Homo sapiens: one gene and its partners. The protein of the gene in region 4 purifies or fractionates together with the protein of the main gene of each other region. This does not show direct contact. Each region holds a gene or a part of one and is shown on either strand. Other genes may lie near its edges. The genes, in order: CSTF2, SPAG9, PRPF40A, SLC30A4, C19orf25, STX8 and RBM25.

Evidence for each region.
Region 1: the proteins of SLC30A4 (region 4) and CSTF2 purify together in Homo sapiens (affinity purification with mass spectrometry; 2 studies listed by BioGRID and IntAct, with this or other methods). This does not show direct contact.
Region 2: the proteins of SLC30A4 (region 4) and SPAG9 purify together in Homo sapiens (affinity purification with mass spectrometry; 2 studies listed by BioGRID and IntAct, with this or other methods). This does not show direct contact.
Region 3: the proteins of SLC30A4 (region 4) and PRPF40A purify together in Homo sapiens (affinity purification with mass spectrometry; 3 studies listed by BioGRID and IntAct, with this or other methods). This does not show direct contact.
Region 5: the proteins of SLC30A4 (region 4) and C19orf25 purify together in Homo sapiens (affinity purification with mass spectrometry; 5 studies listed by BioGRID and IntAct, with this or other methods). This does not show direct contact.
Region 6: the proteins of SLC30A4 (region 4) and STX8 purify together in Homo sapiens (co-immunoprecipitation; 3 studies listed by BioGRID and IntAct, with this or other methods). This does not show direct contact.
Region 7: the proteins of SLC30A4 (region 4) and RBM25 purify together in Homo sapiens (affinity purification with mass spectrometry; 3 studies listed by BioGRID and IntAct, with this or other methods). This does not show direct contact.

What each region holds. Positions count from the first base shown.
Region 1 is NC_000023.11:100,833,295-100,837,572, forward strand, and holds part of CSTF2 (cleavage stimulation factor subunit 2), read left to right. Parts: coding exon 1-178; intron 179-4,044; coding exon 4,045-4,155; intron 4,156-4,278. UniProt on the Homo sapiens protein: One of the multiple factors required for polyadenylation and 3'-end cleavage of mammalian pre-mRNAs. This subunit is directly involved in the binding to pre-mRNAs.
Region 2 is NC_000017.11:50,991,869-50,995,368, reverse strand, and holds part of SPAG9 (C-Jun-amino-terminal kinase-interacting protein 4), read left to right. Parts: intron 1-144; coding exon 145-312; intron 313-1,433; coding exon 1,434-1,605; intron 1,606-3,500. UniProt on the Homo sapiens protein: The JNK-interacting protein (JIP) group of scaffold proteins selectively mediates JNK signaling by aggregating specific components of the MAPK cascade to form a functional JNK signaling module.
Region 3 is NC_000002.12:152,672,123-152,676,400, reverse strand, and holds part of PRPF40A (pre-mRNA-processing factor 40 homolog A), read left to right. Parts: intron 1-2,694; coding exon 2,695-2,803; intron 2,804-3,358; coding exon 3,359-3,423; intron 3,424-3,777; coding exon 3,778-3,942; intron 3,943-4,278.
Region 4 is NC_000015.10:45,487,810-45,492,087, forward strand, and holds part of SLC30A4 (probable proton-coupled zinc antiporter SLC30A4), read right to left. Parts: intron 3,879-4,278; exon of another isoform or gene 3,775-3,878; intron 3,073-3,774; coding exon 2,919-3,072; intron 1,234-2,918; coding exon 1,032-1,233; intron 1-1,031. UniProt on the Homo sapiens protein: Probable proton-coupled zinc ion antiporter mediating zinc import from cytoplasm potentially into the endocytic compartment. Controls zinc deposition in milk.
Region 5 is NC_000019.10:1,472,385-1,476,677, reverse strand, and holds the end of C19orf25 (UPF0449 protein C19orf25), read left to right. Parts: intron 1-1,419; coding exon 1,420-1,646; 3' UTR 1,647-3,477; downstream 3,478-4,293.
Region 6 is NC_000017.11:9,254,052-9,258,329, reverse strand, and holds part of STX8 (syntaxin-8), read left to right. Parts: intron 1-4,278. UniProt on the Homo sapiens protein: Vesicle trafficking protein that functions in the early secretory pathway, possibly by mediating retrograde transport from cis-Golgi membranes to the ER.
Region 7 is NC_000014.9:73,113,619-73,117,896, reverse strand, and holds part of RBM25 (RNA-binding protein 25), read right to left. Parts: intron 3,612-4,278; coding exon 3,564-3,611; intron 1-3,563. UniProt on the Homo sapiens protein: RNA-binding protein that acts as a regulator of alternative pre-mRNA splicing. Involved in apoptotic cell death through the regulation of the apoptotic factor BCL2L1 isoform expression.

The DNA of each region.
Region 1 (4,278 bases), on a different chromosome or scaffold from region 4:
AGCTCGTGCAATGGAGGCCCGAGCGATGGAGGCCCGTGCAATGGAAGTCCGAGGGATGGAGGCCAGAGGCATGGATACCAGAGGCCCAGTGCCTGGCCCCAGAGGACCTATACCTAGTGGAATGCAGGGTCCCAGTCCAATTAACATGGGGGCGGTTGTCCCCCAGGGATCCAGACAGGTATGTGTAACACTGACTTCTGGCATCCAAGTGAAATCTTGATCTATTCAGGAATTGATTATTGAGCCTAATTATTACTGCCTTCTGACTTGGGCTGTTTCTTAGCTTGTTAGAAAGGGAAGACTTGGATCTCCCTGTAGCTTCTCTGTCCCTTAGGGTGGTGATTTTCTGGCTATCAGGATTGTAGTTCAAAAAAAAACAACCTTATCCCACAATAAATAGCTATTCATTTGGAGCAGAGCCCCTGAAAATTTAGGGGTTAGAAAGTAGTCTTGATTGGGGTACAAACCAACATCATGTACACGGTTTTTTCCAAGATATACTTGCCCGGATCTCATCCGAGGTATAACTCAGAATCTCTTATTAGTAGGATCTGAGCATGGATAGTTTGAAAAACTTCCCCCAAATGATTCTAATGTGAACCCTGACTGGGAACCACTGGGTTAGAGTATATGAAGAGCTGTTAGTGGCCATTTAGATAATCTTAGGTTTAGAGAGACCTGTGTTAATTTATTGTCATCACATAGCCTAAGTGAACAGTGGAATGTGAAAGGCAGTTTATTAATAATCACCTTAAAAGGTGTGGAACCGAAGTCTTGTCTCCTCTCTTTTATTTGGATCTCTCTGCCTGTGTGTACATGCTCCCTCTTCATCTCGACTTGGTTGTGGAGAGGTGGTATGTGTGTTTCTTCCGTGAGTTTTTATATGCTGGCACCTTCATTTCCCTCTAACTGCTCCACCTTCCTTTTCCCCCCTTCCTCTGCGTACTTCTCTCTTCTTTTTTTATGTGTCTTCCTCCCCATGTCTGTGTGTATGAGAGAGAGAAAGATAATGGCAGAGCTGGAATGGAATACATCAATCATCTAATTCCCTCAGTTTATAGATTTGGAAATTAAGGCCCAAGAATTCAGGTGACTTGACCAAATTCACATGACTAAAAAGTGGCAGAGCAAGGAACAGAAGCCACTACTTTTTCCACTTTACTACTCTGTCCTGTTATCTGCACATTTGTGTGTGTGTATATGTGTGGATATGTGTCTACCCCCTCCTCTGTAATATGAAATACAAATAGAGGGTTTTTTTGCTATGTGTAGAATAAAACTGTTCTCTATTGTGTTTGAAGTGTTTGTGGGCCTTGATTTTTATTGTACTCTCTATGGTCAGTAGCCTAGTAACAGAAATGGTTTTTATGCATTCATTCTGTCACTCAGCAAATATTTATTGAGCACCTACTATGTACCAAACATAGATCTAGGTACGGGGGATACTGCAGTGTGAACAGAACAAAGCCCCTTCCCCCATGGGCTTACATTCTAGTTGGGAAGACAGATAACAAACAAATAACTACATAATGCGCTTACATAATTTTACTGGTAGTTCTATGATGCAAGACATTGCAAGTAAGGGTTGGAAGAACATTTCTGGATAATATTTTGCTCCTTTCTCTCTGCTGGTACTTGAACTTATTACCCTAATACTAGGTTTATACCATTTTTATTAGTAGATTCGATAAAGCCAATTAGATCTGAGGCAAGAGAAAATACAAATTTTATCTTCAAACCTTTAAAAAAATTTTAAATTAATATATTAACTTATAAATATATATATTCGTTCATCTATAAAAGATATATGTATTAAGAACTTCAAGCCAGGCATGGTGACATGCACCTGTAGTGCCAGCACTCTGGAGGCTGGGGCAGGAAGACCATTTAAGTCTAGGAACTTGAGGCTGTGGTGCATTCTGATCGCACCTGTGACTAGCCACTGCACTCCAGCCTGGGCAGCATATTAGACTCCCATCTTTAAAAAAAAAAAAAAAGCCAGGGTAGAATCCTGTAGTCCCAGCTACTCTGGAGGCTAAGGCAGGAGGATCAGTAGAGCCCAGGAGTTGGAGGCCCGCCTACACAAGATAGTGAGACCACATCTTAAACTAAAAGGAACCTTGCTTCCTCTCCTATGCTTGTCTCCCCTGTGGCCCTCTAGGTCCTGTAGATAATCACTTTTATTAGATTTTTCATGTTACTTTCTGGAAAACATGAATATATATTATTTTTCCCCTTTCACTGTTCTATACCTTTTTTTTTTTTAACTTAACAACATGTCCTTAATTCATACTTTTAAATTAGATTTTAAAATTAACTCTAGTCCACTTAGTTAGAAACTTGTGGGCAAAAGGCTTATTATTACTAGGGTGATTATATAATTTATCATCTAAAGGAGAACATGAAAGAAAGTGCTGTTACTTTACTTGGAGGCAAAAACATAAACTGGGACTATCTTAGGGAAACCAAGATGTATGGTCACTTTTGCTAGTACTTGTCTGCCTAGAACAAGCACACCTAGAAACTTAAAATGGCCGTTATTGAGTGGTTAGATCACAATTACAGTACCTCAGATTAAAGCTTCAAAAAGATTATACTCAATTCCGAATTGTGCTGCTATAAACTCATGTGACCAAACACCACCTGTTCCCCAATAACCTATGGAAATAAAAAATTTTAAAAAAAAAGATTATACTCATAGGTGTTTCAGACCCATAATAGCTCGTTAATGTTCAGACTGGTCTCTGGAAACTTGTCTCTGGTTTCAGTATTGATAATGAACAGAACAGTGATAATATTCTAGCAGTCTATACAAATCTGTACTAATGTTTCATCTATCCATTGTCTTTGGGAAATGAGTTAATGCATGTAAGTGAATGTTCCAGATAATAGAACTATTCTACCAAGTTTTTTAACTTTTTTAATAAAAAATTATAAAAAGTATTTGATATTTCCTTTCTTGAACAGGATACAAAAAAATAGTTTAATCAGTTTTGACTACTCAAGGTCATCATTGAATAGATTCATTATTGTCTATACCGTAATATAAAACATAGTTATCTCCTGTTTGGTTTCTGGTCTCCTTCACTGTCAGGCCGTCACCTGGCTCTTCATATTACTGAAGTGGTATCTGCTCCTAACAGTTATTTATCCGTATTTCTTTTATGTTTTGCTGCTTCTAATCTGCTGGGTAAGCAGGTAACAAGTTTGTTAACAATATGTGTTTATTAAGAGAGTACCTAAGCTCTGGGTGAATGCCTGAGTGTGAACATAATGCTTGTATAGGGACATTCTAACAGTTAGATTTGGTACTCAAGAGGTCTTTTCCTTGGGTTCTGGTAGTCTTGCAAAGGGTTGAACTCATTGAAGATCTTAAGTACCAGTAAGTATGATATCACTGTACTTGGTTTTTTCACTCCAGTCAGTCATATTTTTTGGTCTACATTTAGCAGAAAGCATCTGCCATATGTTCTCTATGGAAAGCTATAAACAGCAAATGTTGGGCTAATAGCAGTCTTTTTCCTGGAGGCCTTCCCATTGCCTTTCTGCCTCTCTGACATTATGAACATCTCTGCCTCACTTGTGGGATAGGGCCCTTTGGGACAAACTACCTGTATCTGATTGAACTAGGGTAGGGGGTGGCCCTGTGAATGTAACTTCCCCAGTGGACCAGCATACATTTTCTCTAGACTCTGTTGGCTTTCATTTGTATTTCCAGTGAGCACTAGTTTCCAGGGTGTTCTCAGTTTTCACTGTGCTTATTTGGCTGAATTTTGATTAATTCAGTGGTATCCAGTTGTGCTGTGTAATATTTGTTGATGATGCTGGAGGTGTTGTAAGCAAGTATGTCGAACTTGCTAGTTGATCTCTGGCTAAACCCTGCCTTCTGCTATTGCTAACAGTAGAAAATGATCTTCAGAGTCATTGATTTGCTTTTTTTACTCATATCTGTATAGAGATCATAATTTGTCACATTATTACTGAATTCAGGTTACCTATACATTAAAAATGCCAAAAATCTCTCTTTTCTCTTTGTACACATAGGTCCCAGTCATGCAGGGAACAGGAATGCAAGGAGCAAGTATACAGGGTGGAAGCCAGCCTGGCGGCTTTAGTCCCGGGCAGAACCAAGTCACTCCACAGGATCATGAGAAGGTAAGCAACACTGTCTGACTGCCTCCTTATGCACAATTCTAGCCTTTTTGATTCCTCTTTTCACAGTTACCATGTGACGATCCTGGGTCTTCAAAGTCCCTTTGGAGGTGATGTTTATTCTAA
Region 2 (3,500 bases), on a different chromosome or scaffold from region 4:
AGTATTACTTCTATGGTGAGGTTATTGTTCATTTTATAATATTAGGTTATAAGACCTGTATTTACAACCATTAGTTATTTTAAGAAAACATGAAAATGCTAAACATTTCTAGACTTAATATTGTTTTCTTTTTCACCTGAGAAGCTGTGGTGTGCTGTTGGAGTCAATTTATCTGGTGGGAAGACCAGAGATGGTGGTTCTGTTGTTGGAGCAAGTGTATTTTACAAGGATGTTGCTGGTTTGGATACAGAAGGCAGTAAACAGCGAAGTGCCTCTCAGAGTAGTTTAGATAAGTTAGATCAGGAACTTAAGGTAAGTGTGTGTACTAACATTTGACCTGGTTTATGAGACTATGAGTTTAACTCTTTCATCCAAAATTTGCCTCTGGGTCCAGCTTCTAATTGGGATTACTATGCCCTGGCTTACTGTCCCTCAGCACCCTTTTAAAATCAATTTTAAAATATTGAGGTATAATTTACATGCAATAAAGTGTGCACTCGAAATGGGTATAGGTCAGAGTTTTGACACATGTGTACACGTATGTAATCACTACAGTGATCAAGCTAATGGAACATTTTATCATTGTTCTGCTTTACCTGTTAGTTTTGTGTTGCTGTTTAGAGACAGAGTCTCACTCTATCACATAGGCTGGAGTGCAGTGGCATGATCATGGCTCACTGCAGTGTTAACCTCCTGGACTCAAGTGATCTGTCCACTTCAGCCACCCAAGTAGCTGGGACTACACACCCACACCACCACACCTGGCTAATTTTATTTTTTGTAGAGACGAGGGTTTCACTGTGTTGACCAGGCTAGTCTCACACTTCTGGCCTCAAGCAGTCCTCCCACCTCAGCCTCCCAAAGTGCTGGGATTACAGACGTGAGCCACTGTGCCAGCCTAACTGCTAGTTTTTCATCTACTAATTAATATTGATAGGTGGTTGTATTAGTCTATATTCACACTGCTGATAAACACATACCCGAGACTGGGAAGGAAAAAAGAGGTTTAATTGGGCTTACATAGGTAACCTCTGGGGAGGCCTCAGAATCATGACAGGAGATGAAAGGCACTTCTTACATGGTGGCAGCAAGAGAAAATGAGGAAGAAGCAAAAGTGTAAACCCCTAATAAACCCATCAGATCTCGTGAGACTTATTCACTATCACGAGAATAGCATGGGAAAGACTGGCCCCCATGATTAAATTACCTCCCCCTGGGTCCCTCTCACAACATGTGGGAATTCGGGGAGATACAATTCAAGTTGAGTTTTGGGTAGGGACGCAGCCAAACCACATCAGTGGTTGTATTTTTACCCTTCCAAATAATCTGGAAATAAATTTGAAATAGTATTGCCTTTTACTGTAACAGCACCACCTTATGAATATTTGTACATACATATTGTTTTAAACATTTTTCCTCCTTTGCCTATACAGGAACAGCAGAAGGAGTTAAAAAATCAAGAAGAATTATCCAGTCTAGTTTGGATCTGTACCAGCACTCATTCGGCTACAAAAGTTCTTATTATTGATGCTGTTCAACCTGGCAACATCCTAGACAGTTTCACTGTTTGCAACTCTCATGTTCTGTGCATTGCAAGTGTGCCAGGTAAGAGTGAGTCATGCGTTTCTCTGCCCTCCCCTCCATCCACCTACCTGCTGGGCACTGATGTAGCAGCTGAAGATGCAGTTCTGCACCTTGCTGTCATGAAGCTTATGTTCTAGTTAGGGAAGATTAAAAAACAAACTGGAAACCATTGAATAAAGAAGATATTTTCAGGTAGTGAAAAATACTGTGAAGAAAATAAAACAATGGGAATATGAGAAAATAACTGGGAGCCAGAGGACTGTTTGGATTAATTAATAAGGAAAGGTCTTCTAAAGTTTTGGATTAAACATTATGTGATGTTAAAACATTAGTTTAAAAATTAAAGAAGTGTATGTGATATATCCATATGTTGGAATATTATTCAGCCATAAAAAGGAATGAAGTTCTTTTTTATATTTTATTGTGGAATACTTAATATGAGTTCTACTTTTTTTTTTTTTTTTTTTTTGAGACAGAGTCTTACTCTGTCACCCAGGCTGGAGTGCAATGGCATGATCTCGGCTCACTGCAACCTCCACCTTCCAGGTTCAAGTGATTCTCCTGCCTCAGCCTCCCGAGTAGCTGGAATTACAGGCACCTGCCACCACGCCCGGCTAATTGTTTGCATTTTTACTAGAGACGGGGTTTTACCATGTTGGTCAGGCTAGTCTTTTTTTTTTTTTTTTTTTGAGATGGAGTCTTACTCTGTCACTCACACTGGAGTGCAGTGGCACCGTCTCGGCTTACTGCAACCTCTACCTCCTGGGTTCAAGTGATTCTTTTGCCTTAGCCTCCCAAGTAGCTGGGACTACAGGCACGAGCCACTACACCCGGCTAATTTTTGTATTTTTGGTAGAAATGGGGTGTCACCATATTGGCCAGGTTGGTCTCGAACTCCTAGACCTCGTGATCTGCCCGCCTCGGTCTCCCAAAGTGCTGAGATTACAGGTGTGACCCACCACCCCGGGCAGTCAGATTAGTCTTGAACTCCTGACCTCAGGTGATCCACCCGCTTCGTCCTCCCGAAGTACTGGGATTACAGGCATGAGCCACTGAACCCAGCCTGAGATCTACCCTCTTAACACATTTTTGTTTTTGTTTTTTTGAGACAGGGCCTCACTCTGTTGCCCAGGCTGGATTGCAGTGGTGCAGTCACAACTCATTGTACTCATTGCAGCCATGACCTTCCGGGCTCAAGTGATCCTCCCAGCTCAGCCTCCCAAGTAGCTGGGACCACAGGCGCACACTACCACACCTGGCTAAGTTGTTTGTACTTTTTGTAGGCAGGGTTTCACCATGTTGCCCAGGCTGGTCTGGAACTCCTGGGCTCAAGTGATCTGCCTGCCTTGGCCTCCCGAAGTATTGGGATGCCCAGCCCTCTTAACAAATTTTTAAGAGTACAATACATTATCCTCTAGGTAGAAGTTCTGACACATGTTATAACACAGATGAACCTTGGAAACACTATGCCAAAGGAAATAAGTCGGACACAAAAGGACAAATATTATATGATTCCGCTTATATGAGATATCTAGAATAGGCACATTCATAAAAACATAGAGTTTCTGTGTGAGGTGATGGAAAAGCTTTAGAAATAGGCCGGCCATGGAGGTTCACACTCATAATCCCAGCACTTTCAGAGGCCAAGGTGGGACGATCACTTGAGCCCAGAAGTTTGAGACCAGTCTGGGCAATATAGTGAGACCTCATTCCACAAAAAATCAAAAAATGAGGCGGGAGGATAACTTGAGTCGGGGAGGTCAAGACTGCAGTGAGCTACGATTGCACCACTACACACCCACCTGGGCAATGGGAGTAAGACCCTGTGTTTTAAAAAAAAAAAAAAAAAAAAAAAAAAAAAGACCTGGCATGGTGGCTTACACCTGTAATCCAGACACTTTGGGAGGCTGAGGTGG
Region 3 (4,278 bases), on a different chromosome or scaffold from region 4:
GTTTAGTAACTTGTCTTCTGAAAATCAGTACCAGATTGCATTAAATAAAAGTAATTGCCAGTTTAGTTAGTGGCCATTAATAGTTTAAATAAATTTTTTTGAGAATCGTAATATCACCGTTAAGACAGTTGATCAGTTTTCAGGCCGAATTTTGGAGGGTTATGCCAGCAAACTTGAAAAATAGTTCAGTGAAATTTTAACAAGTAGAGCCAAGGCTAGGGAGTTGGGGCACAAATCTAAAAGATTGCCAAAAACCTTAGTAAGCAAGATACATCATATTTTGATGCAATATTTTACATCAGATCAGTGCAAAAATTCATGATTAACAAACTATCAGTATTTTCAGTTAAGACAGGTGTATTGTTTCTTCTTTGGTTATTGGTGTTTTGGGTTTCAACCTCCTATAAATCAGTTAAAAAAATACAGCTTTGTAGAAAAATGAATTATGGGGGAAAAAAAAGCAGTTTATGGCTGGGCATGGTGGCTCACACCTGTAATCCCAGCACTTTGGGAGGATGAGGCAGGAGGATCACTTGAGGCCAAGAGTTTAATATCAACGTGGGCAACATAACAAGACTCTGTCTCTACAAAAAATTTAAAAATTAGCCAGCACTTGTAACCTCAGCTACTGAGGAGGCTGAGGCAGGAGGATCACTTGAGCCTAGGATTTCAAGGCTGCAGTGAGCTATGATTGCACCGCTGCACTCCATCCTGGGTGAGACAGCAAGGCCACCCTGTCTCTCTTTTTTTTTTCTTTTTTTTTTTTTGGCACAGGGTCTCCCTCTGTCACCCAGGCTGGAGTGCAGTGACGTGATCAGGGCTCACTGCATCCTCGACCTCCTGGCCTCAAGCGATTCTCCCATCTCAGCCTCCTCCTGAGTAGCTGGGACTACAGGCACACACACCATGCCTAGCTCATTGGCCTGCCTCAGCGTGCCAAAATGCTGGGATTATAGGTGCGAGCCACTCCACCTGGCCAAGGAAAAAAGGCAATTTACAGAGAAAGAAAGTTGTCTAGGAAGTATATGAAAAGCCATTCAGCCATAATAATAAAGAAATACAAGTTAAAATAATACTGTGATTATTTTTCTAAGTGAAAGTCAAGTAGAGAAACATTTAAAAGATAACACCAGATACAAGAAAACTCTCTTTTCACTCTTAGTGAGACTATAGTAATACAACTTTTTAATAAAGCAAAGCTGTTATCTGTCAGAGTTCACGGTTTGTGTGTACTTGCATACCCTGTAGTCTAGTACATTTTATATGGCTATGCTTTATAGAGCTTTAGAAAGTGAGGTCAAGCTAAATTTCTTGACTTTAAGGGTGGCCTGAATAGTTCACCATAATCTCATTATTGAAACATGATTATCCATCTTAATATTTAAGCATGTTGCCTTCATCCATCCATCCCCTATTTTAAGTGTTCTTTTGTTTTTCGTATGTTAGTTTCCCAGAGTCAAAATAGATTTTTAACTTTTTCTGATGTTTCAAAAGTTTTAAAAGAAATCTGTATGGTGTATTTGAAGGCATGAAAATGAAATTAACATTTTGTTTTATACTTTCTCCCCCTTTTCTCTACATTTAAGATACACGAACATATATCTAATATATCAGAGACATCTTCCACATTGATAGAAATGTGTACCCATCATGTCAAATGATGGGTTATTATCATTTGATTGTGCATAAATGGAAGTGCTCCTCTATCAATAGATATTTAGGCTTTTTGGAATAACTTTATTTTGCGTCTTGTCATACTGAAAGTTTTCTTCAATGTTTTCCATAAGTTTAACATTAAACAGTTGTTTCCTGCTTTTTTTCATTCCAGCATTTCCTTGGTATAGTGTCTGAGTCATAATACGCTTTTGATTTTAATTACTATAACAGAGATCATTTTTTGTCAGTATCTACTACAGTGTCTCTTCGCCTAAGCGTTCTACTTATTTTTTTTTCATTCCCTGGCCCCCACCCATGCATTCCCTTATTATGTAGAAAGAAATGTAAGGCTTCTACCATTTTTTTCTCATCAGGAAAACCCCCAATTATTAAACAAGTTAGTAATTCTGGGTAGTTGTAATTTTTGTTTGACATCAGTGTTCAGCAAACTTTCATGAAATATTAGATTGGAAATATTTTTGGATTATTTGTGTCATACAGTCTTTATATGGTGACTCAATTCAGCTGTGGTAGCACAGTCAGCGATAATGTGTAAACAAATGAACGCGGGCATTTTCAAGTAAAACTATAATTACAAAAATTAATAGGCTGAATTTGTCTAGTGGGTTGTAGTTTGTCAATCCTGATTTAGATTGATCCTTACATCTTATTTATCTTCACACTTGCCCAAATCCTTAGAGTTATTATAGCACTAATGTGAAACCACTGAATGAGTTTAATAAGCCATTTAAAACTATTAACCTATGGGCCAGAGGAGCTAGTGTTTTAAGTCAGTTAAATGTTTATTTTGTCATTTGTCCAGGGTCTTAAAAACTGATTTAATAACTGAACTTTTAGGAAACGATTATCTTTATTTCTTTGTCTTCAGATAAGTGTGTTTTTAGAGTTCATATAGCTTTTATTCTAAATGTCAAATTTTATTTCAACATCAAACATTTAAACAATTTAGACATTATTTTTCTAAATGAAGCAAAAATTTATTTAATTGATAAATACCACATTTGAATTTCTCTCTAGTTTTACTCCCAAAAAAGAAGAGGAGGAGAGCCAACCAGCAAAGAAAACATACACTTGGAATACAAAGGAAGAGGCAAAGCAAGCTTTTAAAGAATTATTGAAAGAAAAGGTATTAATATTGCAGATTTTTATTGTTTCTTAGCTTTTTGACATCAAGCATGTATTATGGATTTTTATGTGATGTGTAATAATTACCCAACAAATGACGTTACTCTTTAATTAAACCTTGATGGTATTGATAATACCAATCTCATGAACTGTTGTAACTGAAAAGCAACTAAATATGTCTTTTTTTTTTTTTTTGAAGTACACTTTTGTGAAACTTTCAACACAAAAACTATTGTGTACAAGGTACTACACAAGCACATTTCTACCCAATATTTAATGTAAGGGTTTTTTTTTAATTCATAATAGTTATCTTTTATCCATAGTCTAAGAAAAAAGCATTTATGTTCTATTTAAATTTCAGTTAAAGTTTTCATTTTAGTTCATAGGTGTATTACACAGATTTGCCTTCAGTAAAAAACTATTTTTTATAACTTGTTTCAAACTCCTGCAAAGGGAAATGCTTGATGTTTGCAGTTAGTATTATACTCAGTTTCCTATTATGTGACTTAAACTATTCTTGTGTGAAATTTTAATTTTTCATTTAAATTATTTTCAGCGGGTACCATCGAATGCTTCATGGGAGCAGGCTATGAAAATGATTATTAATGATCCACGATACAGGTAGTACTTCAACTTTTTATTTACTTTTCACTTTGAGCATATAGCAGGCCTAGCACATTTAAAGTTGTGTAGAAAGATAAAACATTTAACTGTTGACTTCTGTTTAGGATACCAAGTATAGAGTTGTTTTATGTCTAATAACCAAAAAGTCAAAGGCTTATCAAACAATTTGAGTACTCCGCTACATATAAAATAATAATTATTTTAAAAGTAGAAATTACTTTCTACAATCATTTGTAATAAATTTTTGAAAATTTTTAAATTATATGTGTAAACAGTTTTATTTTTTTTTTCAAACCACTAATATTTGATTCTTTTGCCTGTGTTTACTCTTACATGGTATTTTTATATTAGTGCTTTGGCAAAGTTAAGTGAAAAAAAGCAAGCCTTTAATGCCTATAAAGTCCAGACAGAAAAAGAAGAAAAAGAAGAAGCAAGATCAAAGTACAAAGAGGCTAAGGAATCCTTTCAGCGTTTTCTTGAAAATCATGAGAAAATGACTTCTACAACCAGATACAAGTAAGATGTTTAGTGTTACATGGCCTATGTTTACTACATTGTTGTTTGTGTCATACTTTTCTGCCATGTGCAGTAGCTGATCCAGAGCTCATTAAATAAAACTAGATGATTATGAATGTGGAAACTTGATGAGGTACAAAATAAATCTGTAGTTAAATGTAGAATTTAACTTGTTGACTTAATAAGTTTTTGAGAGACTGGAAGAAGGGGAGAAAGACTGTATTCAATAATCAAGTTGGAGGCCAGACGTGGTGGCTCACACCTATAATCCCTACCGTTTGGGAGGCCAAGGCAAGCAGATGGCTTGAGCCCAGGAGTTCAAGACCAGCCTTGGCA
Region 4 (4,278 bases):
TACTTGCCTCATGGGACCTATTTCCAGAAATGTAATCACTTGTTCTATTGTTCCTTGTGCCATCTCTAAATGTTCTAGAATATCAGAGCTGGAAAGAAGTAAGTGTGTGTGTGTGTGTGTGTGTGTGTGTGTGTGTCAAAGCTGGAAAAAAGTGTGTGTGTGTGTGTGTGTGTGTGTGTGTGTGTGTGTGTGTTGCCCAGGTTGCTCTTGAACTCCTGGGCTCAACTGATCCTCCAGCCTCAGCTGGGATTATAGGCACAGCCACTGTACTCAGCTCTGGAAAAAGTTTTAGCAGCCACTAGTTTAAGCCCCTTGTAATAAAGAAGAGGGAACTCAAGTTTAGAGTTCAGGTATTTGCTTTCAAGGTCAAAGCATTAATGGCAGAGCCAAGACTAGAACCCACTCAGATCTCTGGATTTTCAGTCCAGTGCACATTTTACTACCTAGTAATTCAATCACGAGTTTTAAAATTGAGTTATCTGGGCAATCATGGTGGCTCATGCCCGTAATCTCAGCACTATGGGAGGCTGAGGTGGGTGGATCACTTGAGGCCAGGAATTCGAGACCAGCCTGGCCAACATGGCGAAACCTTGTCTCTACTAAAAATACAAAAATTAGCTGGGCATGGTGGTGTGTACCTGTAATCCCAGCTACTTGGGAGGCTGGGGCATGACAATCACTTGAGCCTGGGAGGCGGAGGCTGCAGTAAGCCAAGATTGTGCCACTGCATTCCAGCCTGGGCGAGAAAGTGAGACTCTGTCTCAAAAATAAATAAATAAATAAATAAATAAGAAAATTGATTTATCCAGTGAAGGCACTACAAAAGCCAAATACAGATAAGTTACCCTGTGACGTGATATCATTTTGTTTACTGCTAACAAAAGAACTATAATGATTGTCAAGTAAACTTACATCAATGTAAAATGAATAGAACTGGCACTGGTGTCCAGTATACTGATATGACAATCAGCCTTAGTTTTCATGTTGAAATTAAGTACATTTTAAAATAGAAAAATTACCAATCATATTACCTTGAATCGTATGATGTATGCAGCTATTAGCACACCAACACTCTGTACCAAATCTCCCAAAGCATGTACAAATGCAGCTCTCACTGCCAGGCTATCCTGCCCATGGTTACGTTCACACCCAGAACCTCTGGTAGGGGAATTTGAAGGCAGGGAGTGGGAATGGGAGTGACGGTGACCAGACTGGTTCAACAGAAACCCCATTCTGTTAAAAATAAAAGAAAACATTATTATTTTTCCCAATATTGACAAAAACATTTGTCACTAGTCAGACACTAATGAGGTAACATGGAACTCATTTATTTAATAAATTTGGAGCAACTATTATTTATCAGTACTGTTCTAGGTACTTGGGTCAAAACAGTGGTAAGATAGACATATCCCTACCCCCATGGAGCTTATGTTCTAGTAGAGAAGGCAGAGAAGCCAACAAATAAGTACATAAGGTATAGCCAGGCAATGTGAAATGCTTTGGAGAAACATAAAGCATTGTAAGGGGATGGAGGATGATGGGCAGAGTGGTAAGGGAAGGCCTCTCAGATTTTCTCTAAGCAGATACCTGAAGGAGGTCAGAGAGCAAGTGGTGGAAGAGTGTTCTAGGCGGAAGAATAGCAGAGCAAAGGCCCCAACATGAAAATGTGCTCTGTGTACTTGAAAAAAGAAAGCAGCCACTGTGGGCCAGAATAAAGTGAGCAAAAGTGCTAGGAGATGAGTGGTAGAGGTACACAGAGTCTTACTAACAAGGCTGCAGTAAAAATTTGATTACATTCAGGGACTGTTGTGGGGTGGGGGGAGGGGGGAGGGATAGCATTAGGAGATATACCTAATGCTAAATGACGAGTTAATGGGTACAGCACACCAACATGGCACATGTATACATATGTAACAAACCTGCACGTTGTGCACATGTACCCTAAAACTTAAAGTATAATAATAATAAAATTTAGAAAAAAATTCATTTCATTCTAAGTACAAATAGAAGCCACTAGGGCAGGGATTGGTAAACTGTGGCTGGTAGATCATATTTGGCTCACTGATTTTTTTTTTGTACATAAAGTTTTATTGGAACACAGCCATGTTCATTTGTTTACATGCTAAGTGTGGCTGCTTTTGTTTTATAACAAGTGTTGAGTAGCTTTGAAAGAGAATATATAGATCTCAAAGCTTAAAATATTTACTATCTAGCCTTTTACAGAAAAAAAATTGCTGACTCTGGTCTAAATGATTAAATCTGTTAACTTCAACTTTATTATTTTTTGTTTGTTTGTTTTTAAGACAGGGTTTTGCTCTGTTGCCCAGGCTGGAGTGCAGTGGCCCAATCATAGCTCAATGCAGTCTTGATTGCCTGTGCTCAAGTGACCTTCCCACTTTAGCCTCCCAAGTGGCTGGGACCATAGGCACGAGCCACCGTGCCTGGCTAATTTTTATTTTTAGAAGAGATGAGGTCTCACTATGTTGGCCAGGCTGTCTTGAACTCTAGAGCGCAAGTGATCTTCCCACCTTGGCCTCCCAAATTGTTGGGACTATAGGTGTGAACCACTGTATGTGGCCTAACTTAAACTTTCAAAACTTTCTTCCCTAAAAAGTTTTAAGGGAAAAAAATTGATAGCTTAAGAAAAAAAATCTAGTTAACACAAAAGTATTCTAAAAGTTAAACAAGAACAAAAAACTTTGTCCTACTTAAATTCATGATTTTGACTCAATCTCCAATATACCTGGGCAAACTAATGAGGAATTTATAACGTCCATAGTGTTTCATTTATCAGAAAAGTTAATGAGTTATATCATTTTTAAAATATCAAAATATCACTGAATATTACTGAATGCATATGCAATAGTCTCTGAGTTCACAGTACTTGAAAATATTAATGTGAAAAAAATAGAGCTTACATTACATTAACTGCAACTCCAACAGCTGCGGTGATGAGCATTATATCTCCATTTATTTCATAGTTCATATGGATAGTTCTTTGCACAGCTTCATATAAGAGGAATCCCATAAGTATATACACCAACAGCACACTAATCATAGCTGACAAAACCTCTAGAGGGAAAAACACATATAACAAATACATTTTCAGCATGGTTACTACACTTCATACCAACTAAATATTATATAGTCTTTTTTATATTCTTTCCTCTAAGGAGATAAAAGCCCTCTATTGTTTCTGTCACGTCATTTTTCTTATTTATTTTTTTGAGACAGGGTCTCACTCTGTCACCCAGGCTGGAATGTAGTGGCCTGATCATGCATGGTTCACTGCAGCCTTGATCTCCCAGGCTCAAGTGATCCTCCCATCTCAGCCTCCAAGTAGCTGGTACTATAGGCACATGCCACCACACCTGGCTAATCATTTTTCTTATTTAAAATGTGTTTAGCACTTACAGAAAAAAAAAGTGGTTAGCAGCTTGACTGATATGGATCCTCCACTAATTTACCCTTACCTCTCCCTACCCTCCACTCCTCTCTCTCCAGGGTCAAATTATGTATATTTACAGACCATGCACAAGGTAGAAAATGACAAAATGAGAAAAAATATTTGTCACGTATGTGATCACAGACTAATTTCTTGATAGAAAAAAGTACACTCAAAAGTCAGTAACAGGTAAGGTGTGGTGGCTCATGCCTGTAATCCTCCAACACTTTGGGAGGCTGAGACGGAAGGATCACTTGAGCCCATGAGTTTGAGATCAGCCTAGGCAACATAGTGAGACTCCGTCTCTCTTGGTTTTTCCCTTCCCTTCATGTCAAATGGGTAATGTGCCAACGTTGTAACAAGGTTCCAGGGTGGCACGTCTCACACATGTATGTGAACACCTAATTATCAAGCTCATGAACTACAAGAGGATCAAGACTCTATCTCTAAAAAACACATTAAAAATTAGCTGGACATGGTGGTGAGCACCTATGGTCCCAGCTACTCAGGAGGCTGAGGTGGGAGAATTGTTTAAACCCAGGAGGTCGAGGCTGCAGTGAACCGTATGCTACTGGACTCCAGCCTGGTCTCCAGAGCTGTCTCAAAAAAAAAAAAATCAATAAGAAAATTCATAATAAACAGAAATGGCCAAATTCTCAAAATCAGTCATAATAAATGAAATTCAGATAGGAATAAGATTTATTTCCTCCTATTAAATTGGCAAACTTTTTTTAAAAATCAAAAGTTTGATAATAGCCAGAGTTAGCAAGGATCTACCGGTGGAAGTATCAAATAGTATTACCTTTTTAGAGAGCCAATTGGTAAAACTAATC
Region 5 (4,293 bases), on a different chromosome or scaffold from region 4:
TGAGACCCTGTCTCTGAAAAAGAAAAAAAGAGAAAAATTGAGTTGTGTTTTCCCTTTAGACATATTTCAAGTGCCCAGGAGCCACACATGGCTGGTGGCTGGTGTGGACCAGCATCGGTGGGAGGTGTGCGCATCATCTGGAAGGTTCTGTGGGCCGGTACTGGTCAAGGTGCATGAGTTGGTTTTATTCCCAGCATGCAGTTCGGTCACCTGAGGGTGCTGGGGCCGTGGTTTGAGCTTCATGGGCTCAGGTCCATGGCCGTTGAGTGTGGCGAAACTGAGGCACGCTGTGCGGGGGACGGGGGGCGCTCACAGAAGGTAGGGGGCCTCCTGTGCCTTCATCCAGGCACTGCCCGGCCTTTCCCACCCTGTTGCTAAAGCAGGTGATGACAGAGGTGATTTGATCAGCCCAGACCCGTGCGGCACGTGGAGCCTTCGTCCGTGGGAGACCACACTGCCGAGGGGCAGGCCAGAGCCGAGGGGCCCCTGACGCTTCTCTGAGTGACCCTGAAGTCGGTGCTGCTTCAGCCCTGCTGCACTGGGCTTGCATACGTGGGGGAGCAGGGAGCCATACGTAGTTTCTGCTGAATGTGGGAGTCACCAGGACGTCAATGCCCACCTCTCACCTTCGCCACCCCTGCCTCCCTAAGTGTGTGCTCCAGGAGGTTGCACGGCCCCTGGAGAGGTTTTCGGTGGCGGGCTTGTTGCGTCTCTGGCTTCCAGAGACAGCAGGAATGAGAGCCAGGCCAGCTCAGTGGAGTCCATCCCGGTGGGTGCCACGGCTTTTGCAGGAATGGAAGCCCCGCCCCCAGGAGGGCCACTGCTGGCGAGGCTTGAGCTCTTTCTGTGACCCGATCCCCCTGGTCACACGCTTTGCTAAGGCGGGTAGCCTAGAGCTGGAAGCCCCTCCTGCCACCCAGCCACTGTGCCTCTCCCAGCTGATGGACGAGGAAGCCTCCATTACTTGATTTTTGTTTTTATTTATTTTTGAGACAGGGTCTCATTCTGTCACCCAGGCTGGAGTACCGTGGCACGATCATAGCTTATTGCAGCCTCGGCCTCCCAGTCTCAAGCGATCCTCCTGCCTCTGCCTCCAGAGAAGTAGGGACCACAGATGCGTGCTACCACGCCCAGCTAATTTTTGTATTTGTATTTTTTGGTAGAGATGGGGGTGTCACTATGTTGTCCAGGCTGGTCTCTAACTCTTGGGCTCAAGTGTTCCTCCCGCCTCGGCCTCCCAAAGTGCTGGATTACAGGCGTGAGCCACCACACCTGGCTGCATCCGTCATGTTAAGAAGACCCCGGCTGGCAAGCTCACTCGGGGACTGCAGGGAACCCTGCCCTTTGGGGGCAGTAGTGAGGGGTGCCCAGGAGGATGGGGTGGTCAGCAGGCAGTGATGCTGCTGTGTCCTGTCTCAGACCCCCCAGTTCCCTTCAGGATGATGGAGGATGCGGAGGCCCCGGGAGAGCAGCTCTACCAGCAAAGCCGGGCCTACGTGGCTGCCAACCAGCGGCTGCAGCAGGCGGGCAACGTGCTGAGGCAGAGGTGTGAGCTCCTGCAGCGAGCCGGCGAGGACCTGGAGCGGGAGGTGGCCCAGATGAAGCAGGCAGCATTACCGGCAGCCGAGGCTGCCTCCTCAGGCTGACCTCTCGGGGCCTGCAGGCTTGGGCAGCGCACAAGGTGGCCTGCACCCAGGCTTTCCCTGGGGGTCCGTCGGCCCCAGACTGGCATTCACGGGGTCCCAGCCCACGTGGGTGTTGACACAGGCGCCCCTCCTGATGCTGGGGCTGCGGTTCATCCGTCGTCTCATTCATGCCGAGTTGGTGGGACCCACCCAGCTGGCTCCGTCCTGCGTGACCTGAGGGCCCCACTGGGGTTCTGGAAGAGGATAGGGACATTATTGCTGTACTGTGATTCTGTCGTCAGCTCACAGTGGCCGTGCTCTGCAGTGGGGCCCCTGGGAGCAGGTGCCACCTCCTTCCTCTCCCGGGGCAGGCACTCGCCTGTCCACTTCTGAGTCCAGGTGTTGGGATCGAGGTGTTAACTGTGATTCCATCCAGCGAGTGCCCACCCAATGTCAGAGCAGCCCGAGGGCCAGCCTGAGCCCCTGACCCCACTTCCTTCTGGGCCCCGGGCTCCTCCCACAAGCCACGTTGATCTTCACAACGACCCTGGGCCGCTGGGGTCACCCAAGAGAAGCAGCCCTGAGACCCAGCCAGGCTGGGCCTAGCTCCACGGCACGGGTGTCTCCCAGCCACTGCCCTTGCTGGAGGACCGCTGTGAGTCACTGGCCAGGAGCCCAGGGTGTCCTGAGTCTCATAGCCACCCTGCCAGCTGCAGCAGGTCCTGGGCCTGCTTCCCTGCGGGTTCTGGCCCTGGGGGAGGGGGCGTTAGTGCGGCGGAGGGTCTTGCCAAAGGCTTTTCATCCTAAATAGCAACTTGAGTGGAAACCTGGGCAAGGCGGCCCAGAGGCTGGGCCCTGCACATAAAGCTTTCGTGTGTGTCTGGCCGTCTGAATGGTGCCTCTGTGAGCGGCTCCGTCCCGGGGCCCCGGAAGCTGGGGAGGGATGGGTACCGGCGACCCCGGGAACCCTGCTCAGTCCTGCCGGGCACTGCATGCAGGGACCGTCCGCCTGACCCAGAGACCTGGGGCTGCCTCACCCTCTCTCCAGACCCACAGCCAGCTTTGTTTCTTGAATGTGGAAGATGTTTCTTATTCCCTGAAGAAAGGGGGCCTGCCACACACAGCCTGGGAGGCGCCTCATCCAGAAACTGGGACTTGGCTAGCCCGGCCTGGGCCCTAGGGACTTCTCACTGGTCATGCTTCTGAAGCTGCTCACCTGGCCGAGGGAGGTCCCGGCAGTGTCCCAGGGTGGAAGGTGGGGAGGGGGCCGGCTCCTGCCATCCCTTCCCACCCTGCACTTCTGTGCTGCTTGCAGTCATAGCTTTCCTTGTCCCCCCAGCTGGGCCAGGGCTGTGCTCCCTGAAGTGGCTTTGACGTGGGGCCGTCCCAGCTCCCGCAGCCCCTGTCCACCATTGACTCTCCCCGGTAGTGGCTGCTGTGGCTGCCCCATCCCAGCTGTTGCACCAGCCACAGCTCCTAGTGGCTCATGGGTGCCTCCTGCCCCACACTGGGGCCTGCCATAATAACTGGCCCAGGTACCAATGCCCAGGTTGGACCCCCTGTCTGGGGTGCTGTGCACCCCCTGGAGCCTGCCCTCCCTTGGGACCAGGGGGAGACTCCTGGCCTCAGCCAGTGCCTCCCCGGCCCATCTGGGTGGGGTGCCCACAAACCCTGTGCCCCCAGTTTCTGCTTTCTGGCTCTGCTTCCAGGGATCTAACCTGGGGGGTCTCAGCAATTCTGTGGCAGCACATAGACAGCGATGAACCTACCCGCCCACAGCCCATTTTGAGGAAGAGGTGATGGCGGCAGGCAATGCAAGAGCTCAGTTTATTAAATGTGTGCGAGTCGGACAGCTGACGGTGTCGTCCTTACGCCGGACAGATGGCTTTACATTTAGGGAAGGACAGGCTTTCACTATTTACCACTATTTACACGTCCGTTTAACACTGCAGAGACCCGGTACAGAAACGTGGGGTGGCGGCTAGGGGAATCAGACAGACCAGGCGCGCGCCATCAGGGCTGGACCGGGGCAACAGATGGGGCCGGGTGAGGTAATGCTGTCGGAGCTCGGGAGGACCATGCCGGTGGGCACGGCGCCCCGAGTTCAGCACCCACGTGTGGTCATGTTGGGGGCCAGTGGCGGTCACTGTCCATCAGCCTCAGGACACCTCCACCCTCCCTGCGTCCTCAGACCCTCAGCTCCTTAGGACTGGCCCTGGAGCATTGGGGGGCAGACGAGGACCCCTTGTCACCCTGGTGCAGAGAGGCCAGGTGGCCAGGCAGGGGCCGCGGTGGGAGGGAGGCCTTGCAGTGGGCGTACCTTGAGTTGATTGTCCAGAGACCGCGGACTGCCTGTCCCCTTCTGGAGACAGCTGGACTGGGCGGTGAGGTGTGGCTGTGGCCCCCACGGCAGGGGATGGAGAAGGCGAAAGTGAGCTCAGGACTCGGGGTGGGGGTGGGAGGCGGGGCTGGCAGCCATGTTGCGCACCTTGCTGCTGGGCAAGGCGTCACGGGCAGGAGCCAGCCAGACCCAAGTTCTGTGAGCTTCCAGGCGTCTCCCCATCATCGCTGCCACCACGCTCCCCCAAGAGGTAGCTCTGGGAGTTCCCCACGGCCCACATGGGGAAACAGAGGCAGGGAGCTGGGAGGGCGCCGCCCAGAGACTTAC
Region 6 (4,278 bases), on a different chromosome or scaffold from region 4:
AGTCGTGGGATTAAAGGGAACATTTACATGAACTTTTGAAGATAAATATTCCAGTTTTGTCTCTTCTCCTGCTTATTCCCCACCTCAGCTCAGGAGTCTGCCGTGAAAAGTCTGTTTGAACAGTGAGACTGATCACTGGTTAATACATAAGCAAATGTCACCTATTGACAGGCACAACTGCCAAAAAAATAAAACAAACTTTAGGAATTGTCCCTAAGAAGTGTCCTCTGTTCATCTTTAAGTTTAGTAGCTACGTGTGGGTTGCCAGTTGGCCTAACTCTTCTGGTGTGAAAAGCGAGGCAAACAAAAAGAATATGCTTTTTTTGTTTTTGTTTTTGTTTTAAACAAAATCTCGCTCTGTCACCCAGGTTGGAGTGCAGTGGCGCAATCTCAGCTCACCGCAACCTCCTCCTCCCGGGTTCAAGTGATTCTCCAGCCTCAGCCTCCCAAGTAGCTGGGATTACAGGCACCTGCCATCACGCCCGGCTAATTTTTGCATTTTTTAGTAGAGACGGGGTTTGGCCATGCTGGCCAGGCTGGTCTCAATCTCCTGACCTCAGGTGATCCACTCGCCTTGGCCTCCCAAAGTGCTGGGGTTACAGGCATAAGTCACCACGCCTGGCCAGAATATGTGTTTTGGTTCAAGACAACCAAAATAGTAGTAGGCAGCTAAGGCGGCTTTCCTTGCAACAAAACCAGATAAAAAGACTCCTGGATAAAGCGCCCTTCACCCCTCCCTGCCTCTTGCTTTCCCATCAGCCTACTTGCCACGTTCCCCTGCAGCTACAGGGCAGAAGTGGCCAACACAGAGATCCACACTCTCTCGAAAAGTCAGCCTCCAGATTCTTTCTCCTCCTTCCCCTCCTCCTCCATGTCAGTAAGCACTGAGAGCTGTTACCTACACCCAACTTGTGGCAGGGGCGTTGGCAGCACAAGCTCCGTATTTTGCTCGTTTCCAGTGTTTCACTGGAAAAAAGTATGGACCATGACTCCAGATGACGAGTCTTCAGAAAACACCATTCCTGAGAGACTGTGTTTAATATCCTCTCCCAGTTTGAAAAGGAGTTTGTTTTCTTACATCTTTTTTTAATTGCCATGAGCTGGACTTGTAAATATTGTAAGTGGTTGAGTAATACTCATCTGGTAAACTGACCAAAGGAAATGGACATTTTTTTCCACTCTTGTAACCCTGGCATCCCATGCCTGCCCCTGAAAGGGACTCTTGAGTATTGGAAGGGAAAATCTGCCTCGCCAGGTGCCAGCGGGCCCAGGGCAGGAGCTGAGTGAAGCGCAGAGAAACGATCCCGAAGTCAGGAGCCGCAGCAGGTGTTCTGTGCTAGGGTTGGGGGCAGAGAGCATTCATTGTTTAAGAAGTTGGCAGCCTCCCAGAAGTTCAACTGTCTTTCCTTGTTCTGAAATGTCAAACATTTCCTTAGCTGGGGGAATGGATGAGTAGACCCCCCTGAGGTTTAAGAACTATTCTGAGGCAGAAGAAGGAAGTTCTGCTTTTCACACGTGACCGAGTACGATGTGAGGTCCCATGTCCCTCCGGCAGGGGGGTCGGCTGCGCCCCTGAAACTGGAGCCACCTTCCTACATCAGAAGAGTTGCCAGCTCTTCCCTGCCTCTGCCTTTAGGAACCGTCAGACCCTCTGTGGTTATGTGGGTAGTGGGGGAGTGTGTGTGTCTTTTTAATGGTGCCTTTTAGTGATACTTACTGAAATATTTGTAGATGACCTATGTCTGGAATTTGTTTCAAAATAATATGCAGGAGACAGGGAGCAGGTGAGGGTTTGCATAAAGCCAGACAGGCCATGAATGGATCCTTGCGAAAGCTGACGGATGGGCTCATCACTGTTCTGCGTGCCCTTCGGTCTGCTTTTGTATATGTTTAAAATTTTCCATCATAAAACGTTAAGGAAGGGAAGGAGGGAGGGAGAAAGAGAAGAGGATGAAAAGAGAAGAAACTCTTGATCCCGGTGTTTCAACCCCAGTGAGTCTGAGCCTCTCTCCCCGAGGGACCCCCACACTGTCTCGAATCAGGATGCCTCCACTCAAGCTCCACTGGTGTAGACAAGGGTGAGCGTGTGGGCAGAGGGGTCCTACCCACCTGGATTCCAATTCTAGTTCTTCCTCTTACCCGCCAGAGGGCCTTAGGTAGGAGAGTTCACCTTCCAGAACCCCAGCTTCCTCAGATATAAAACAGAGATGAGGGTTACTTACTGTGCAGAATTAAACCAAGTAATACACCCATAGCACTTAGTGCCAAACCTGGCACGCATGACTGTTTCATGAACGGTGTGGCTCAGCTTTCCCTGGCTTCAAAAAGATCCCTGCTTACTCATTCCGAAACATCCTTCAGAGGAGAGAAACTCCATTCAGAAAGGTGCCAGAGCTGGGATCACATTCGAAGAAAGCCAAACTTCTTAAAGAAAAAGGATTGCCGTGCTAAGGTAGATAAACACCTTCTCTTTGACCCAAAGAATCCAAAAGACAGCAGTTGGCTTTTGCTTATCGCTGTCACCTGCCATCTTAAAACGACCTCCTCAGTTGACCCTCAGTATATACCAGTTTACTTAAGCCTGTTTAAAGTCTCCCCCTGTTTGCTCTGAAAGGGTTTAAAATATAAAAGCCTTATTTGTCATGGCTCCTAAAATCCTCCTTTTCATCTTGGGACAAGAACCCAGTTTATCACATCTTATCAGCTTACTGTCCAAGATGTCCATCACTCAAGTTCATTTTCATTTATTTATTTATTTATTTATTTATTTATATATTTATTTATTTATTTATTTATTTATTTTGAGATGGAGTCTTGCTCTGTTGCCCAGGCTGGAGTGCAGTGGCACAATCTCAGTTCACCACAACCTCCGCCTCCCGAGTTCAAGTGATTCTCCTGCCTCAGCCTCCCAAGTAGCTGGGACTACAAGCGTGCACCACCATGCCCGGTTAATTTTTGTATTTTTAGTAGAGACGTGGTTTCTCTGTGTTGGCCAGGCTGGTCTCAAACTCCTGACCTCAGATGATCCGCCCGCCTTGGCCTCCCAAAGTGCTGGGATTACAGGCGTGAGCCACAGCGCCTGGCCCATTTTCATTTTTTATAGATAATGTGTGCCCTGTCATGCCTTTCCTGGGGCACAGTTTGTCTAATTCACAGCATCTGTGGTAGAAAAATTAGCAGCTTAGCCACCACTGTATTAATAATAGTTCCACTAGACCCACCCACCATGCGCTAAAACTGTACTATGAAAGGTCTCTGCAGCTCTTCTGTGGAAGAGCATTCTTCTATCTTGTCTCTGTAGTATTGTGGGTTGGCATTGGCCACTTTTTGAATTTTCTTACTCATTGGCCTTCTTGCCACATTTTCTCAGCTTCTCCCTCTCTGCTGACCACTCCTTCTATGCCTCTCTTGACTCTTCTTATCCCTTCCAAAAATTCAATACATTTACTCATTTGTTTTATACACACACACACACATGCACACACGTGCGCGTGTGTGTGTGCCTCTTTCCTGTGCCAGGCTCTGTTCTAGGTACGGGGGATATGGCGGTGAACGAGAACCCACAGTCCCTGGTGTAGATGTTCATGTGTCCAGGAGAGACAGACAGTAACTGAGTACCTAAATAATGATTCAAGGCCGGGCGCGGTGGCTCACGCCTGTAATCCCAGCACTTTGGGAGGCCCAGGAGGGCAAATCACTTGAGGTCAGGAGTTCGAGACCAGCCTGGCCAACATGGTGAAACCCTGTCTCTACTAAAAATACAAAAATTAGCCGGGCATAGTGGTGGGCACCTGTAATCCCCGCTACTTGGGAGGCTAAAGCAGGAGAATTGCTTGAACCCAGGAGGCGGAGGCTGCAGTGAGCCAAGATCACGTCACCGCACTCTAGCCTGGGCGCGAGACTCCATCTCAAAAAAAAAAAAGATTTAATAAGAGTTACCATGGAAACTTAGGGGGGCAAAGAGGGCACAGGTAACTGGAGGATGACAAAGAGTTCTTTGGGAAAATGCCACTGAGTTTGAGGGATTAACTAGACCACGAGTGGGGAGCTCCCGGATGGAAAGGATAGCGCGTGTCGAAGCTGGGAGGCAGGGCCCCTACCTTCTGCATCAGCCTGTTGGGGGCACCGGAGACAGCCAGGATGGCTCAAACACAGCGCGCAGAGTGCGGCTGCAGGGTTGCTGGGTCAGACTGTGCAAGACCCCCTTGGCCACTGTAAAGTTTGGATCTCAGTTTCAGCCACTGGAGGATTTAAGCAAGGAGGTGACCTGATCTCCTT
Region 7 (4,278 bases), on a different chromosome or scaffold from region 4:
ACTCTGCTCCCTTCTGAAGGGGGCAGCTATGACTGTGCTCCAGAAATGTGGTCTAGTGTTGCCAGGTCTTCATAGAGGAAGTTTGGGGTAGGAATTTAGAGTACTCAATCTCTAGTCAGACTACATTGGTTCAAATTCTCTAGTCAGGCTACATAGGTTCAAATTGCACTGCTGCCTCTTACTAGCGATAGGTCCTTGGTTGGGTTACTTAACCTGAGCCTCAGTTCCCTCACCTCTAAAGTGGAGGCGATGTAGCTACACACCATAGCAGTAGGTACTAAGTGGGAATTAAAAGAGTTGGTATGTAGTTAAGTGCTCTGACAACTGACTGGTATATAACAAGTGCTTAATAAATACCTGGGAAGAGACTGGGCACAGTGGCTCACGCCTGTAATCCCAGCACTTTGGGAGGCCTAGGTAGGCAGATCACCTGAGGTCAGGAGTTTGAGACCAGCCGGGCCAACATGGTGAAACCCGTCAATACTAAAAATACAAAAATTAGCCAGGCGTGCGGGTGGGCACCTGTAATCCCAACTACTTGGGAGGCTGAAGCAGGAGAATTGCTTGAACCCAAGAAGTGGAGGTTACAGTGAGCCAAGATCGCGCCACTGTCACTCCATATAGCCTGGGAAACAGAGCAAGACTCTGTCTCAAAAAAAAAAAAAAAAAAAAAAAAAAAAAAAAAAGAAAAGAAGAAAGAAATTAAAAGAAAGAAATTTCTGTCACTTTCTCAATGATAGCAATAATTAATTAAAGAACTTTTGATCAGATTTCTATGAGCCAGATTTGACTTTAGTTGAAGAACTCTGTTGTAACACTAATTCACATCTGAGTCACACTTCAGAGAGATGTAGGCACAAAATGCAACCAAACTTCATTTAATTTACATAAAATGAAAAAGGTATAATATAAAGAAGTCAGACTTTTGTTAAGAGTGAAACAGTACTCAGGCTAAAAATTCAGTCTCCTCATTTATTCAAGAAATATTTACAAGGCCCCATGAGCTTTTTAGCAGAGCTGTTTGACAACACTAGCTCAACTGGTTTCCTCTCATTCTAATCAACGAGCCACAAAATCATAAACAGTGGTCTAAATACACTTCAAATATCAATATATTACAACAGATCAAAAAATCTAAAATTAACACTGACATGAAATCTTTACTATGTATGATAGGAACTCTGCTGAGGCCAAACGCTAGAACACAGTTTTATTTAAAAAATGTCTTCACTCAGGCCTAACTACGACACCCTCTACTCCAAGAAAAACGGGGCTGGAAGCTTCAGGAAAGTTCAGAATTCAGCCCCAAGGACTGAAATCTATTCACATTTCTCCTTTCCTCTGAGGCAATGAAGTTTTCACAAATGTTTTATCAGGTGTTCTAAATGACAGCTGCATCAAGCTAGCTAGGCAGCAGAAAAGGAATGTTATCTGGCTTTAGACACCATAAAATGCCTGGACACAAAGCAGCTAGACCTCACAATCCTTCTTTTTGACTATAAACCCCACGATGTCCCTCCCTGACATCTCTGGTGGCAGTTCCAAGTGCAAGTACTCCCAGTCATCTACCATTTCATATCATGCTTGATGATTTTTCCTTCCTTACTCATCTTCCCATTGCTGTCTTCCCGCTCTGCCCTTTGGACCGCTATTCCATTTTATACTACACATCAACAACTAAATTAGGTTTTTCCTCTTAACAGAAACCCTCCTCTATCTCCTAGAGCCCCGGCACTTCTCAGGCAGTCTCTCACTCTCAATGTCTTAATCTCCACAGGAATGACTTGTGGGTCTTCACTGTTTCTTTCTTGGTAAAAAAAAAAACAACTCCATGGACGTTCATGAGCTCTCACCACCTTATCCACTGTAAGAGCAGCTATCTGGCAAGTATCTAGTCTTTCCCCCCACTTAAATGAGTGCTCTGGCAACTATTTCCAGTATTTCTCTCCAATCTGACTCCCAATACCCAGGAATTTCCCATAGTCATACTATGCACCTTGCCATCGTCTGGGCTGACCTATCACATATAGACTTGAACTTTCTACACTCTGACCATAACCTCTCCTTTCAGTTGTTTTATTACAATTCGCCTTCCACAACTTCACTGGAACCACTAGTCCTTAATTCATTCAAACCACCAGCTCTATTCAGATACTATTTTCTTCTCTTCCTAACTTGGAGATCATAGTTCAATCTCTTGCTCAACCTTTACCATCAATTTTCTTCTCCTTTCCTTGTCTCACAAAATCACAGTGTTAACTACATGCTACCACTGACTGTAATCCCAAATTAAATGCAACGGGGATTTGATGTTTACTGTCAATACAACAGGTGTTTGGATACCTGTCCAAAAAGCAGCACATATGTACAATCTTGTGGCCATAAAAAACGAAATAGTGTCCTTTACAGGGACATGGATGGAGCTGGAGGCCACTATCCTTAGCAAACTAACACAGGAACAGAAAACCAAATACAGTATGTTTTCACTTATAAGCGGGAGCTAAATGATGAAAAAACATGAACGAAGAGAGGGGAACAACACACAATGGGGCCTATCGTAGGGCAGAGGGTGGGAGGAGGGAGAGGATCAGGAAAAATAACTAATGAGTACTAGGCTTAACACCTGGGTGATGAAATAATCTGTTCAACAAACCCCCATGACACAAGTTTACCTATGTAACAAACCTGCACATGTATCCGACTTAAAACACACACACACACACACACACACACACACACACACGTATCAGTTCCTGTAGTAATCCTTGTGATGCTTAACCTAACTGCTATCAATGCCATCAGATGTTCTATCTCCTCTACCTCCATTATCCTTTCTACATATCTAATTCAAACAAGTACATCAAGGTTCCAGTACCTGTATACCTATCTCTCTGCTACTACAGGTCATTTGTTCTACTTTTATGCTTCTAGCACATTGTGCTGGGCATAGGGAAAACATGAATGGAACTGGTGGAAAAGAATGAAGCCTTATTTATTTATTTAGAGATGGGGTCTCACTCTGTCACCAGGCTGGAGTGCAATGGCATGATCTCGGCTCACTGCAACCTCCACCTCACAGGTTCAAGTGATTCTCCTGCCTCAGACTCCCCGAGTAGCTGGGACTATAGGCACACGCCACCACGCACAGCTAATTTTTGTATTTTTCATAGAGACGGGGTTTCACCATGCTGGCCAGGATGGTCTCGATCTCTTGACCTTGTGATCCACCCGCCTCAGCCTCCCAAGTACTGGGATTACTCAAGTTTTAATTCAGGCCTAAAAAAGATTCTGGAACAAAGACAGGCAGGAAGTGAATCAAATTCAAAAGTGAGTTTATATAGATGTTAATTAAAATATTAATAATAGTGCATTTCTGGCCAGGTGTGGTGGCTGATGCCTGTAATCTCAACACTTTGGGAGGCTGAGGCAGGAGGATCACTTAAGCCTAGGAATTTAAGACTACCCTGGGCAACGTGGTGAGACCCCATCTATATTTTAAGACAAAAAAAACCAAAAACTTTTTTTAAATTAAAAGAAATAAAAATAGTGAATTTCTAACTTACCATGGCAACATCATCTAAAATGCTCTGGGGTGAACTATGAGCCATAACCTAAAAGAGAAAAATAATTGTCACATTAAAAATAAATAAAAAATTAACAATACAGTCAAGAAATTTTAAGGTATGAATCCTCAAATTCATACAGGAACTTCTTGCGGCTAAGGAACCATTCTATAAATGTTTTAATTTTCAGAATATCATTCTTCAACGAAAGAGGCACCAAAACCTGGAATATTAATCTCCATAGTGGTCTGTAGTCTAATTTTAAGTCAAATCTCACACAAGTTTTAATGCCACAATAATTACAAGTTAGAGAAGACAGAGTAAATTTACTGTTCATAATATCAAAAGAGCACTACTGGCAAAAAAATACCATAGCTATACCTTTATAGAAATATGGTGTTTCTACTATGTTAACTGTTTTATTAAAGTTAAGACTATGTTTTCAGGAGACAATGGGAAGATATACCTTAGTGGTTAAGAGCATGGGTTTCAGAGGCTAGACTCAGTATAAAACATAGCCAAGACACAATCTCTCCTTAAACTTCAATTTCTTCATGTATAAAATGGGTATAACATTCATGACAGACAGATTCTAAGTGTTAGGTTAAAAGAAGTTTTTCTTTTTTCTTTTTTTTTATTTTGAGACAGAGTCTCACTCTTGTCACACAGGCTTGGAGTGCAATGGCGCAATCACAGCTCACTTCAACCTCCGCCT